Regions from separate parts of the Homo sapiens genome. Here regions 2 and 3 are each reported to be linked to region 1. Evidence: microRNA targets listed by miRTarBase, many of them from high-throughput screens and not tested one by one. Region 1 holds a microRNA gene; each other region holds the end of a gene's coding sequence.
Evidence for each region. Region 1 holds the annotated microRNA hsa-miR-4292 (CCCCUGGGCCGGCCUUGG, at 2,301-2,318, opposite strand). A microRNA usually pairs through its seed, bases 2 to 8, with sites in the 3' UTR of a target mRNA and lowers its output. Matches are read on the target gene's strand: a 7mer-m8 pairs with bases 2 to 8, a 7mer-A1 pairs with bases 2 to 7 and ends in A, and an 8mer does both.

Region 1 (4,193 bases):
AGCTGGGGCAGCCCAGGGCGAGGAGGTTCAGGTCCCCCAGACCCAGCTGGGGCAGCCCAGGGCGAGGAGGTTCAGGTCCCCCAGACCCAGCTGGGGCAGCCCAGGGCGAGGAGGTTCAGGTCCCCAGACCCAGGTGGGGCAGCCCAGGGCGAGGAGGTTCAGGTCCCCAGACCCAGGCGGGGCAGCCCAGGGCGAGGAGGTTCAGGTCCCCAGACCCAGGCGGGGCAGCCCAGGGCGAGGAGGTTCAGGTCCCCAGACCCAGCTGGGGCAGCCCAGGGCGAGGAGGTTCAGGTCCCCCAGACCCAGTCAGGGCAGCCCAGGGCGAGGAGGTTCAGGTCCCCCAGACCCAATCAGGGCAGCCCAGGGCGAGGAGGTTCAAGCCTCATCATTTGCTGGGCTACTTTGCAGCCACAGCTGGCCTGGCCCTTGTTTCTACAAAGGAAAGTGAGTTTAGTCCGTAGGCCAAAGTTGGTTCCTTGGTTTTGACACAAGCACCAGGGAAATGTGAGATGTGAACAGCGAGTACCTCGGTGACTCACGCCTGGCATCCCAGCACTTTGGGAGACAGGTGGGAGGATTGCCTGAGCCCCGGAGTTTGAGGCCGCAGTGAGCCATGATTGCGCCACTGCACTCCAGCCTGGGCCACACAGCAAGACCTTATCTCAACAAACAAAAACAACCAAAAACACTGGGGGAAACTGAGCAAGGGGTCCCCGCAGAGGTGGAGGGGCTCCTGGGACTGGGTCTAGCCCTCAGGACCCTGTACCCTCTGCCACCCAGAGCAGGCAGGTGCAGTAGAACGCTGGGCCCTTGCCAGCAGCCAATCTCCGAGCAGGTCCACAGCTTTCTCAGGGGTTAGGAGGGAGACCCGTTGCTACACAGGAGACACCTGGAAGGAGGTGAGAGACCAGCAGCCACTCCACCCCACGTGGTGAGTGCTTACCTGAAGCTGCAAAAATGGGATATTGAAGAACTTATGAAGGTACTTTAGGCCGAAGCTGTTCTTCATGGAAGACTCAGCATAGCGGAAGTAGGAGGAACCTGGAGGTCTGCTTTCAGAAAGGAAAAAAGATGCAAGAGAAAGACCCTTGCCCTGGTGCCAAGGATCACCCCTGGGCCCACAGCTGTGGGTCCGCACTGCCCTCCCTCCTCCTGCAGGCTCCTGAGGCCACAGGACCCTGCTGAGCCCTGCTAAGCAGCTAAGCCGAGTGCCCTTCTGCAGGTGACCCCACAGTGCCAGCACTTCACCCTGGCACACAGTTCCCCAGCACACAGTTCCCGGCCCTGCCATCGGGGAGACCCAGGCTTCAGTGAGCCCCACTCAGCGGCGAGACCCACATCCGCCGGGCCCCATGCTAACGTTAACCCCTCCCTGGGCCTCTGCCTCAGCACCCTCCCCCGCACACCGGAGCACCGGGCAGGGTCCCTCGGGAGCAGGGCCACCGCACCCACCTGTCCAGGTTGTCGATGAAGTCACGCACGTCGTCCGGCAGGATGACTCGGTGCTCGCCCATGTCCCGGTAGTTTCCCAGCACGCACACTGGCACGTGGGTGGGCACTTTTGGAAGCTCCCGGAGAATGTAATTGAAGGTCCTCGGAGAACAGGTGAGGACCTGGCTTAGTTTCAGCCCTGCGACGCCCTGTCCCTCCCTGGAAAGGTGCTGTGCGCCCAGGCCCGAGGATGGTGGCTGCTTCTCATTTCCAACATCCAACCCAGCAGAAGCATGCCTCGTGCATGCAGAGCTAGAGGGAAGTGCCTCGAGGGCCTTCGCACCCCTCAGCCTGCAGCCCCCGCCCGTCCCTCTCCCTGACGGCAGGTACTTGACCGCACCCCACACTGGAACGCCCCTGCCTGTCCCTGCCTTCCCTCAGAGCACCCCATGTCCGCATCCCTACAAAACCACCTCTGGCTTCATCTGTGTCCACCCTCATTCCGCACTGTCCTCTGTGCCCCTTGGTGTCGACCCTGTGGCTGGTCCTCCAGGCTCCCTGCCCACCGGGGCAGCCGAGGACACCCTGGGGTGCCTCTGCGGCTGCCGGTGAAGCGGGCTGTTTGGAGAGCCTTGTCTTAAGCAGACATCTCCTGGCACGGACGGCAAGTCTCCAGAGTCTGCCTGGCGTGGAACTGCCAGTTTCCCAGCTGCGTGGTTTTCCAAATGGCTTGTGAAGAAATAACCAGCGCTTCAAGTGACAAAACTTCCCCACGACTGAAAGCCAACATAAGGGAGTAAAAAATGCAACATCCTGTTTCTAACTTCATTTTCTTTCATTTACACGCAGTCATTTAAACGGGCCCCTCACCAAGGCCGGCCCAGGGGCACCTCTGGCCTCCTAAGCAGGTGGCCTTCTGGTGTCTCCTGCCTCTCGTGGCTGTGAAGGGCCTGCGTGGTGCTTGAAGCCGCTGTCTGAGCCAGTGTTTTCCATCCTTCCTGCTGGGCACCAGGGGCTCCAGACAGAGCATTGCTACCATAGGCATCGCCTGCCCAGGCTGGTGCTGCCAACAGGGTCTCCGGGCCCACAGGTAAGCGCCTTTGCCGCGTCTTCTCAGGCTGGCTCAAGTCTCGCTGTCACTCCCGCCCACTCCTCGCACGGCAGCCCAGGCGGCTGCAGCTCCCTCCAGGCCGTTCCTGTGGCAGCAGTGGGAGGTGCCGTGGAGGCCACACTGTGTCCACACTCAACTTCGCTTGGGAAAAGCCACTTCCCACCCACCAGGCTGGCCTGCTGCCTAGACAGGAGAGGCCGGAGGGAGAGGAGCACCACTGCTCGCCCAGGTGAGGCCAGCGTGTGCGCCCGAGCTGAACTCGTGCCCTGGGGTGGGGCCGCCAGCCCCGTGTGTGGTTCTCCTGCCATCCGTGTGCCACACCCCCACCGAGGGCTCTCCTGAGGGTGCCTGCGGTCAGTCCTTGGTGGTGGTGCTGAAGGCTGGGAGGGCAGGCATGGTTCCCAGCATTGGCAAAGGTTGGCAGAGGCCCAGAGCATGGCTGGTCAGGTGCTTCAAGCCGCCCTCAGGCCTGGGCTGCTGATGCGTGCTGAGTGTGCGGCCCCGTGACAGGCGGTACGCTTAACCCTGGTGTGGGGGTCTTCCCAAGTAAGAGAAGCTGCTGACTAGGCCCCCAGGCCAGACCCACTGCTGGGAAGAGCAGATGCCTGGACGTGTCGGGCATGCTGCTCCTGGTGCTCCGGGCACTGGCTGTGGCTAGGAGGGGCCCTGCACCAGGACACTGGTCTTCACGCGGCCCTCGTTCTTCTAGGAGCCTTGTGCCAAGTGTGCGTCCGCAGCACCCCCCCGCTGGGGCTCCGGTGCGTCCTGGGGGACACTGCACTCCTGAGGAGCTGAGTGGATCCCATGCGACTCCACAGTGGACTCTGGGGGCTTGCGCCTGGTCCCCCAGAGATCGTCCTGTGTGCCACTGCCCTTAGCTGATTTCGCTGTCATCTTCTTGCTAGAATGAATCTTGGCTGTGGGTCCTCCTAGGTCATGAAGACGGAGGTCGCGGGGAGCCCCCAGCACAAGCAGCCACTTGCTTCCGCCAAGTCTCAGATGGGTTTTCAGGAAGAACAGTGGGGCTATGGAAGGTGCGTGCCTTGCCCCAGATGCCTTTTGCAGCCGGCCCACGCCATCCCGCCCCATAGGCACAGGCATAGTCGTTGCCCAGCCCGACATCCAGGCCAGTGCCCCTTGTGGCTGAGCTGCCACAGCTGCCCAGCAAGAGTCCCTCGGTCCTGCAGAACGATGCTGCTCTAACCATTATCTGCTGCACAAAGAGGGCGCCCAAGGGGCTAGGGGGGTGAGAGTCACAGGCAGCTGCCCCCGCCAGCTCCCTCTTACCACTGCTTGGTAATGTCGAACATCATGACCACCCCGTTGCAGTTCTTGTACACGTCCAGGAACTCAGCATCCAGGGCCATTTCAGACTCCGCCTGGGGACAGGAGGGAACAGGTGTGAGACTGGCCCAGGCTGGGCCCCACCCGTGTGGCCCACAGTTTTAGAAAAGGCTGGATAGTCTTCTAATCTGAAAAGATAACAGCCATTTCCATTTGGAAACGATATGCTGAAGAGATGGGATAGCTAAACATAGGTTTGCCCCAAAGGGTCTGACGGTCAACACCAGCCTCGCTGATGGCTCCCTGAACAAGCCTCCTACCCAGGACCTCCCACTGATCACAGCAGTGTCCGCCCCAGGCCTCACGG
Region 2 (4,193 bases), not on the chromosome of region 1:
CCTGACATAGGAACCAAGAGAGGTGGGGCCACGGGTTTAGAGGCACAAGGGTCAGACAAGGTCAGGCCTTGAAGAATGAAGAGCTGAACTGGCAGAGAGAGGGGTGTGGCACTCCAGGTGAAGGGAGGCAGCACAAGGCAGAACACTCTGGGGGGCTGGCATGGGGAAGGGACAGGAAAGCCAAATCCAACATTGATTCTGCCAAAATCTTTAGTAGTTAGCACCAAGTAGTCAGGCTTCTACTTTTTTTCCTTTCAGCTAATCTGAATTCATTAATATTTATATAATTATAGTACTTATAGAACTAAAATTATTTGAAAACTCAGGTTATTGGACAAATAGGTTCAGTATAATCCCAAATATAAACAGCTTACTTCAGGATAAAATAATTTCTGTTCTTTTGGCCGGGCACAGTGGCTCACACCTGTAATCCCAGCATTTTGGGAGGCCGAGGCGGGTGGATCACGACGTCAGGAGATCGAGACCATCCTGGAGATCGAGACCATCCTGGAGATCGAGACCATCCTGGCTAACACAGTGAAACCCCGTCTCTACTAAAAATATAAAAAATAACCCAGGCGTGGTGGCAGGCACTTGTAGTCCCAGCTACTGAGGAGGCTGAGGCAGGAGAATGGTGTGAGCCCAGGAGGCAGAGCTTGCAGTGAGCGGAGATCGCGCCACTGCACTCTAGCCTGGGTAACAGAGTGAGACTCCGTATCAAAAAAAAAAAAAAATTCAGTTTTTCACTTCATTCTTTGCACATTTTAAAATTTGATTAGAATGTTTAGAAATAAGCACATTTCATTCTATAAAAATGACAGGTCAGGCACAGTGGCTCACGCCTGTAATCCCAGCACTTTGGGAGGCAGAGGTGGGTGGATTGCTTGAGCCCAGGAGTTTGAGACCAGCATGAGCAACATGGGAAAAAAAAATAAAAGTTTTGTCTCTACAAAAAAATATAAAAAATTAGCTGGCAGGGTGGCACACACCTGTAGCCCCAGCTACTCGGGAGGCTCAGATGGGACCTGAGCCTGGGAGGTCAAGGCTGCAGTAAGCTGTGATCCTGCCACTGCACTCCACCCTGGGCAACCCTGTCTCAAAAAATAAAAAAGACAGTAAAAATATCCCTATACTGGGGCAGGAACTTTACAAGGTATCCTGTGGCAAAGGGAGCAGAGATGGGGGGAAAGGGGTGCTAAAAGTTTGATTGGAAAGGGACTTTTCCATGGTTACAACACCAACTGACATGGAAGCTGCACCTCTGAGAGGGCCCTGGTCCTAGAGGTCAACCACCTGATGGAGAGCCTTGGTAAACCAAGCCCTCTTTCACCAATCTCAGGAATCAGGTAGCACAGCCAAGCACTCTAACTTCACACATAAGGAAATTGATGCAGAGGTTCATTGACTTGCTCAAGATCAATCCTGCCAAGAAAAGGCACACCATGCCTGGAACCCAGATCTGATGACTCCAAGACCCTTCCTATGACTCTGGCCCCCCTGCCCAGCCACTTCTAGTGCCAGTTTTGGGACAGTGAAGGGACATCTTCAGTGCCATGAACAGCTGCTGCCGTAGGAAGGCAAGAGGATGGCAGAACCAAGATGACCAAACCTTCCTGAGGACAAAGCTGAACAGGCATCAGAACACCAACAGGAGACTTCTGCCCCGCCCCCACCATCCTGTGACACCACCACACAATATCAGAGCCTTCATTTTCACCTGCTCATGGCAATCCAGAGCAGGTAAGATTATTCCATACTCTACTGAAAAAGACATCTTCCAGGTTGGTTTCTTCTCATTTCAAGAAATGACCAGCTCCATGAACGGGCCCCTATAGTCAGGACACTGCTCTACTATTAAAACATTTTATCCTTTCATTCATAATCTGACCTCTTCAATAATCAGAAGCAATGATTACTCACATGCTTTAGCAATATCACTCCTTTGCCTTTAAGTAATTGATTCTTGCTTTTTGCTTCAACACAAGTGGGTGGGCCAGTGAGGGAGCTCCTCCCAGAACAGGCTGCCTTTTCTCCTGAGAGCAGCAGGCACATGCACTTGTTCCTTCGGGTTGAATCTGATTGCTAGCACCAGATCTCATACATGGAGAGGGGTATGTGAAGCTGAGAGGGGCCTGCAGTGTGCAGGGGCTAGAGACATGAACACAACAATGGTAAGCGTTTATATCTGCTGAGGCCGAGGATCCTATAGAAAATTCAGAAACGGAGTGGGGAGGAGTCTGATTTATGGGAACTGGCAGCAAGGCTAACTGCATGAGAAGCCTTTCACCCTTTTACTGAGTCCTTGGATCTGTGGTTAACCCTTATAAAATATAATTCAGATTCAAACCACATCACTCCTCAACTCAAAATTGTCCAAAAGCTCCCTGCCTCCCTCTGAGCCAGCTCAAGCCCCCGTAATGACCCATGATGCTCATATGGCCGGGCCTGTGGCCTCCCTGGCCCCTCTCCTTCCCTTCCAGCTGGCTCCCTGCACTCCATCCCAGGGGCTTCCTTCCTGAGGACACCAGTCAAGACCCAATCTCCTCTGCCTGCAACTCTCCCTAGAGAGCTACCTGCTACCTCCCTGGCTTCCTTCACGTCTTTGCTCACATTTCACCTTCTCAGTTGAGGCCCTCCCTGACCAGACTATCTAAAATCACGACTGATCTCCCAATCCAGCACTCCCTCTGCTCTTCTCTGATTCACTTTGTCCACTACACACATCACCATCCAGAATACTGCGTATCCCATTTGTTTGTCATCTGTAAAGATCCAAGATGGCAGGATTTTCATCTGTTCTGGTCCCTGCTGGGTCTCTGGCAAACACACCAGCGCCTGGTGTATGGGAGTGCTCAGCACATTTCTGTTAAACAGATGGACCGCTGCTGCCTATGCAGGCCTGTGGGATGGGGATGGCAACAGGGTACTGGTAGAGATCCACACGCCAAGCGCTTGAGCCCAGCATCCTGCTCTCCTCCACCTGCCGCTGAGACCACTCTAACCCCCTAGCAGATATCCAAAAGCCAGCCAGGAAGGCTGAAGCCCCAGCCAGAACTCCCCAGGGGGCATTTGGGAAGGCTAGGAGTTCTTGATGCTGCTGCTTTTAAAGTCAACAGAATAGGCATGGCCACAGGCCAAACTTGAAGACAAATCTAGGATCCCACTGGCCCCTTTCCAGCAGCCATAGCCCATGATGCCACAGATATTCTGTCCAACCACAAAGGGCAGTGGTCTCTCTCTTCAGAGTTGTGGAAGGAGACCTGAATAGGGGAGCCGCAGGCTATGGTGCAGAGGCCACTCCTAGGGGCCGGAGTCTCCAGAAGGGCTCCAAAGGACATGGTGCTGCACTTCCCCAGCGTCACATCCTAGCAGGCAGGCTGGGGACTCCCCGAGCTTTCAAATCCTTGGGATTCTGTCACTAGCTTCCAAAACAGAAAGGGCTGGGCCCTTTATCAAAGTTACTCCACAATGCCTATAATTAAGGGTTCTCTAGCAGGGGACTGAGAACCCACCCCCACTGTCACTGTCAGGTCCCAGGCTAATCTCTAATATGGTTTTTCATATGCCGAGCCAGGTTCGAAGACCACCTGAAGGTCTTTCCACACTTGCTGCATTTGAAGGGCCTCTCTCGAGTATGAAATCTCTTGTGGCTAATGAGTTGTGAACTCTTGTTAAAAGTTTTCCCACATATGCTGCATTTGTGGCACTTTTTCCCAATGCTTATGTCCTGGAGTCCAGTGAGCCTGGAGCTCTGGCTGCAAGCTTCTTTGCAGTCTTCGAGGGGCATCTCTTCACTTGGTTTTAGCTTCTGTAATCTCAACTTTGTGTCCTGAGAGGAAGACCGTGCAGGCGGGCTACGTTCAGCCTGTGCTGCTCTGGTGTGTTTCCTCTGGTGACTGGAAAGGGTATGTCTCCCAATGAACTCTTTCCCACACCACTGACATTTGAAAGGTCTCTCTGTAGAGTGGATCCTCTGATGGTTAACAAGGCGATAGTTTCTATCATAAGATTTCCCACATAGATTACATTTATAGCGCTTCTCTCCACTGTGTATTCCCTTATGATCTAAAAGGGTTCTTTTACGTGTAAAGGTTTTCCCACATTCTTGACACCAAAAACGTTTCTCACCAGTGAGGATTTTTGGCTCCACATTTGGAGTCTTTTCACTTTCATGGCAATCATACTGTTTTTGA
Region 3 (4,193 bases), not on the chromosome of region 1:
CGATGGCTCCTTTGTGGTGTGTGAGGCAAATGCTAATGTTGGCTTCCTAGCCTTTGACCAGGCATGCAACTTAGATGTGGGTGGGATCATTGCAGACTATACCATGTCCTTGCTGCCAAATAGGCAGACTGGAAAGATGGCTGTCCTCCCAGGACTGTCGAGTCCAAGGGAGAAGAACGAGCCGGATGGCTGTGCTTCAGCTCAGGGAGTTGCAGAGAGCGTCTATACCATCAACAGTGGGTCTACCTCTAGTGAAAGTGAGCCTGAACTGGGAGAGATCCGGGATTCCTCAGCAAGCACAATGGGGGCCCCACCCTCCATGCTGCCCGAACCTGGCTACAACATTAACAACAGGATTGCTTCTGAGTTAAAACTTAAGTGAATTCCTGCTTTTTGGCAGCATTTAAACCAAATCCTACTGCTTCCCTAGTAGTTTTGAGTGAATAAAATCTGGACTAATGTGATTTCATTTGCACAGAAACTAGAAATCCCATCTGGGCACTCAGCATTTTTTCTAACGATGATTTAAGCAAATGGCCTAGCTTTGTGGTTTTTACAAAGACAAATATAAAAACACTCAAGAACAACGTCCCGACTGATCAGTATGAGACTGATGTCTGCTGTGAGCACGTGGATATTACGGCTGACGCTAAGGCACTGACTCTGCTGTTGCTTCTGACTTTTAGCAGTAGAACCCATTAGCTCAAAATGGCTCTTGGAATTATGTACTCAAAAGCAACCACGGGATGGAAGCATGTGCAGACGAGGTGGAATGTGACTGCAGTAATAGGTTCTTCACTAAGTGTGTGTGTGATGCTTGGAAAAGACACAGTTCAAACACTATTAGAGGATCGATCTCTGCTCCCCATCAATCACCATCTTGACCATATTTCTCCGACACTCAGGATATGGTGTTTTAGGGAGCTTCCTCATTAGCATTTTCAGTGAAGCACTTTGTAGAAAGTGAGATTGAACGTTCTTTGACTTCACAGGTTGGCAAATGTCCTGCTTTGTAACTGGGCCTTTCTACAAATTGCTTTGCCACTCTGAATTTATAGACCCTGCTTCAACTAACGTCAGCTCTAGCAGCTTCTTGCACCTTTGCTGCCTTTGGCCTCAGCTGGAAATGCACTTCAATGAGCTAGTGGCCACTCAGTTTATTTCTTAAGCGTGCACTAGAATCTAACACCATGGACTTTGTTTTTCAATGGACTCTGTTCACTTGTCATCCAGAAGCCAGTGGGTTTTTACCATAGAAAGCTACTTGGAGATCATCATTCTTCCCCTCCTCTACTGAAACTTTGTGTACTGCTTAGCTGTAGGGGGTTTTCTTGTATGAGTGGGTGTTGGAGGTCTATTGAGTAGATGGGAGCCATTGGAAACACTCCAATCCCCTTGAAACTCTACTTTTATCTAAGATCCAGACACCTGTCCTTACCCACTTTTCCAAACGGGGAAGACTCAGGTATCAGGAATTACCCATTGCACATTTTGCGGGGGGGGGGGCTAATGTAGACATGACACCAAGTGCTTTTCATTTTAATTCTCTAAGCAGTAGATGAGATCTTTCCCTTGGGAGAAATCACAGAGATGGAGTTTTCCATTTCTGCTTATACGAAATATGACTGAAAATGAACAAAGCCACCTTTTTAACCAAATACACTAGAACATATGCACTCAAGAGTTAGCATAATTGGAGTTATTTTCTTGATGTTGCATGTGCCAAGAACACTTAGGGTTCCCCTTTGGGATTACCTTTGAAGCCATGCAAGGCAAGAGGCCTCACAACTTTATAGTCAGACCTTGTGTTTTATCCAACCCCTCCTCCTGCCCACCAAGATCATCCTGAGCTGCTTCACCCATTTTATTTAGCAGACTTATTTTCTAATGCTCTTTAGCTGTTAAAAAAAAAAAATCATTCCTCAAAAAATAGATCTACCCTTAAAGGACAAAGATTTACCAACACTGAAGACCCTTACAAGTTGACAGTTTCTAAAGAGGGTTCTAGGAATGTTCTGTGTAAGGTCAGCTTCACTGGAATAAACATACATCTTCCCAAGGTGACTACTTCAAAGGCAACACTACCCATTCGGGTGCAGAAATTACCGTACTTACTCTGCCATAAATGTAAAATGTGTATAAAGTTAAGCTATTGCATTTTTTCATAACACATTTAAATAGAAATTGGCTTTTAAAGTATTGTAGTTAAAACCAGATCTCACCAAGTAATAGTTGTGCAATTGACAAATGTTTGGTGCCATGTAATGGAGATGTCACACTACACAGTTGTAGTTTAAATGCAGTCCAACATAAGGTGCATGCCACTGAACTGTAACCCTAGTAATGTGTCTTGTACAGTTGAAAAATAATACTTCACCTTTATATAGGTTAAGATATGTACCTTATCTTTACCACTCAGGGTGGCTTTAAAAGACGGACAGCTTTAGGTTTGTTCTCACTGGAACTGGTTACACTTTCTGTGCAAACTTAACCAAGTGATGATCGTCTGGAAGCTGCATTCCCTCATTTCCACTGTTTGGTGTGAATCTAGTCTCCCCACTTTATCTAAAAGGAGGCTAGCAGGGCCCCAGCCTGAGCAGAGCAGCTAGAGAGTGCTTCCAGATTCCTTTGCCAAAGGAGGCCCATTTTCCAGCTGTGAGTGACATCTGTAGTCATTGGCTTCATTGCCTGGCACTAGCCCTGTCTAGAAGTGGAGAAAGCTGGATCACAGCTGGACCACAACCAGCCCCAATCCAGGATTTCCCATACCATGCTGGCTGTGGGCTCTGTGAGCCTCAGCCAGGTGGCCAGGCTATACTTGTCACAGCTGGCCACAGGCCTGCTGAAGGAACATGGGGTGTAGAGCCAGAGCCTGGTTCTGGTTCTCCGCTTGAACAGCTGACCTCGTGCAATCACAGGAACTCTGCGTCTCCATGTTTCACTCAGATAGAGAAAATGCCTCCTTTGTTTACCTCTTTGAAGCTGAAGTAAGTGAGACTGGTGCATGTAAATTAATGGTAGTAGAGCACCTCCCACATCTGATTTTATAACAGTTTCCCATCACTCCTTAAAGAAAAAGGCCAGGCCGGGCGTGGTGGTTCACGCCTGTAATCTCAGCACTTCGGGAGGCCGAGGCGGGTGGATCATGAGGTCAGGAGATTGAGACCATTCTGGCTAACACAGTGAACAAAAAATTAGTCGGGCATGGTGGCGGGCGCCTGTAGTCCCAGCTACTTGGGAGGCTGAGGCAGGAGAATTGCTTGAACCTTGGAGGTGGAGGCTGCAGTGAGCCAAGATTATGCCACTGCACTCCAGCCTGGGTGACAGAGCGAGACTCCGTCTCAAAAAAAAAAAAAAAAAGCCACACATTCTTGGCATTAGCACACCAAACAGTGGTAGGGTACCCTGAGAAAGGAATGCAGCTTCTCAGAGGCCTCACTTCCAGCCAGGGAAACTTAAGACCTGAAAGGAATAAGGCTCTTTGTGTATTCAGACAGCCTTCTGGATGTATCGTATATAACCTGAAACTCTCCACTCTTGTATACCAACTAACAAAGTCTTCCTTATGTAACATAGATTGCAGTGTCTGTATATGGTCTTCCCATTATCTGGTAGTAGCATCTTGAAACTGGTCAAAACTTGAATGCCAATAGCTCAGTCACTCAGAATATACGATTCTGCACTTGGGAAAAATGTCTTCATGCTGTTTTTCTGATCGGGTATGGGGTTGCCAGAATGAGGATTTGGGGCTTTAGGTCTTTCGGATCTCAGAAACAATATAAGTAGATCATAAGCCACTAGTGTCACAATTTCAGGCCCATTGCTTCCAGCTAAAAGGAGATTCCATGACCATGGGGACCAGGAGAGGAGGAAAGGGAAAAGGGAAAGGTCTGGAATAGTTTTGTGAAAGAAATAAAAAATTGGGATGATTTGGAATTCTAGTAGGAAGGAGGAAAAAATGGCTCTTCTGTGGGCTGTTTTAATGAAAGAATCATGAATATGTATTGATCAGAGGTAGATGTCTTTGAAGCTGTTCTGCATAAAGATAATGAGATGCATGGATTTCCATCCACCCTGGAGAAGTGGGGGAGATGTGCTTCCTCCCTTCTTTAAATCCTGAGGAATGCTGGTCTTGAGAACACTGAATGCAAATCTGAGGAAGATGTAAGCGGCTGGCTGGGGAGTTTTAGGAC

Region 2: miRTarBase lists ZNF445 as a target of hsa-miR-4292. Seed matches in the 3' UTR shown: 7mer-A1 at 2,582-2,588, 7mer-A1 at 2,454-2,460 and 7mer-m8 at 1,080-1,086.
Region 3: the mRNA of RIMKLA is a reported target of hsa-miR-4292. Seed matches in the 3' UTR shown: 7mer-A1 at 3,446-3,452.

Annotation. Positions count from the first base shown.
Region 1 is chr9:136,829,121-136,833,313 of GRCh38, reverse strand. It overlaps MIR4292 (microRNA 4292), which reads right to left and starts at 2,357; the gene lies at 2,291-2,357. It overlaps RABL6 (RAB, member RAS oncogene family like 6), which reads right to left. Exons shown (of 15, transcript NM_024718.5): 5 at 3,830-3,921; 6 at 1,453-1,593; 7 at 944-1,049.
Region 2 is chr3:44,443,037-44,447,229 of GRCh38, forward strand. It overlaps ZNF445 (zinc finger protein 445), which reads right to left. Exons shown (of 8, transcript NM_181489.6): 8 at 1-4,193. The coding sequence ends at 3,539. Among named protein-coding and RNA genes, the nearest start is that of LINC01988, 17 kb to the left of the region's middle.
Region 3 is chr1:42,414,593-42,418,785 of GRCh38, forward strand. It overlaps RIMKLA (ribosomal modification protein rimK like family member A), which reads left to right. Exons shown (of 5, transcript NM_173642.4): 5 at 1-4,193. The coding sequence ends at 382. Among named protein-coding and RNA genes, the nearest start is that of RIMKLA, 36 kb to the left of the region's middle.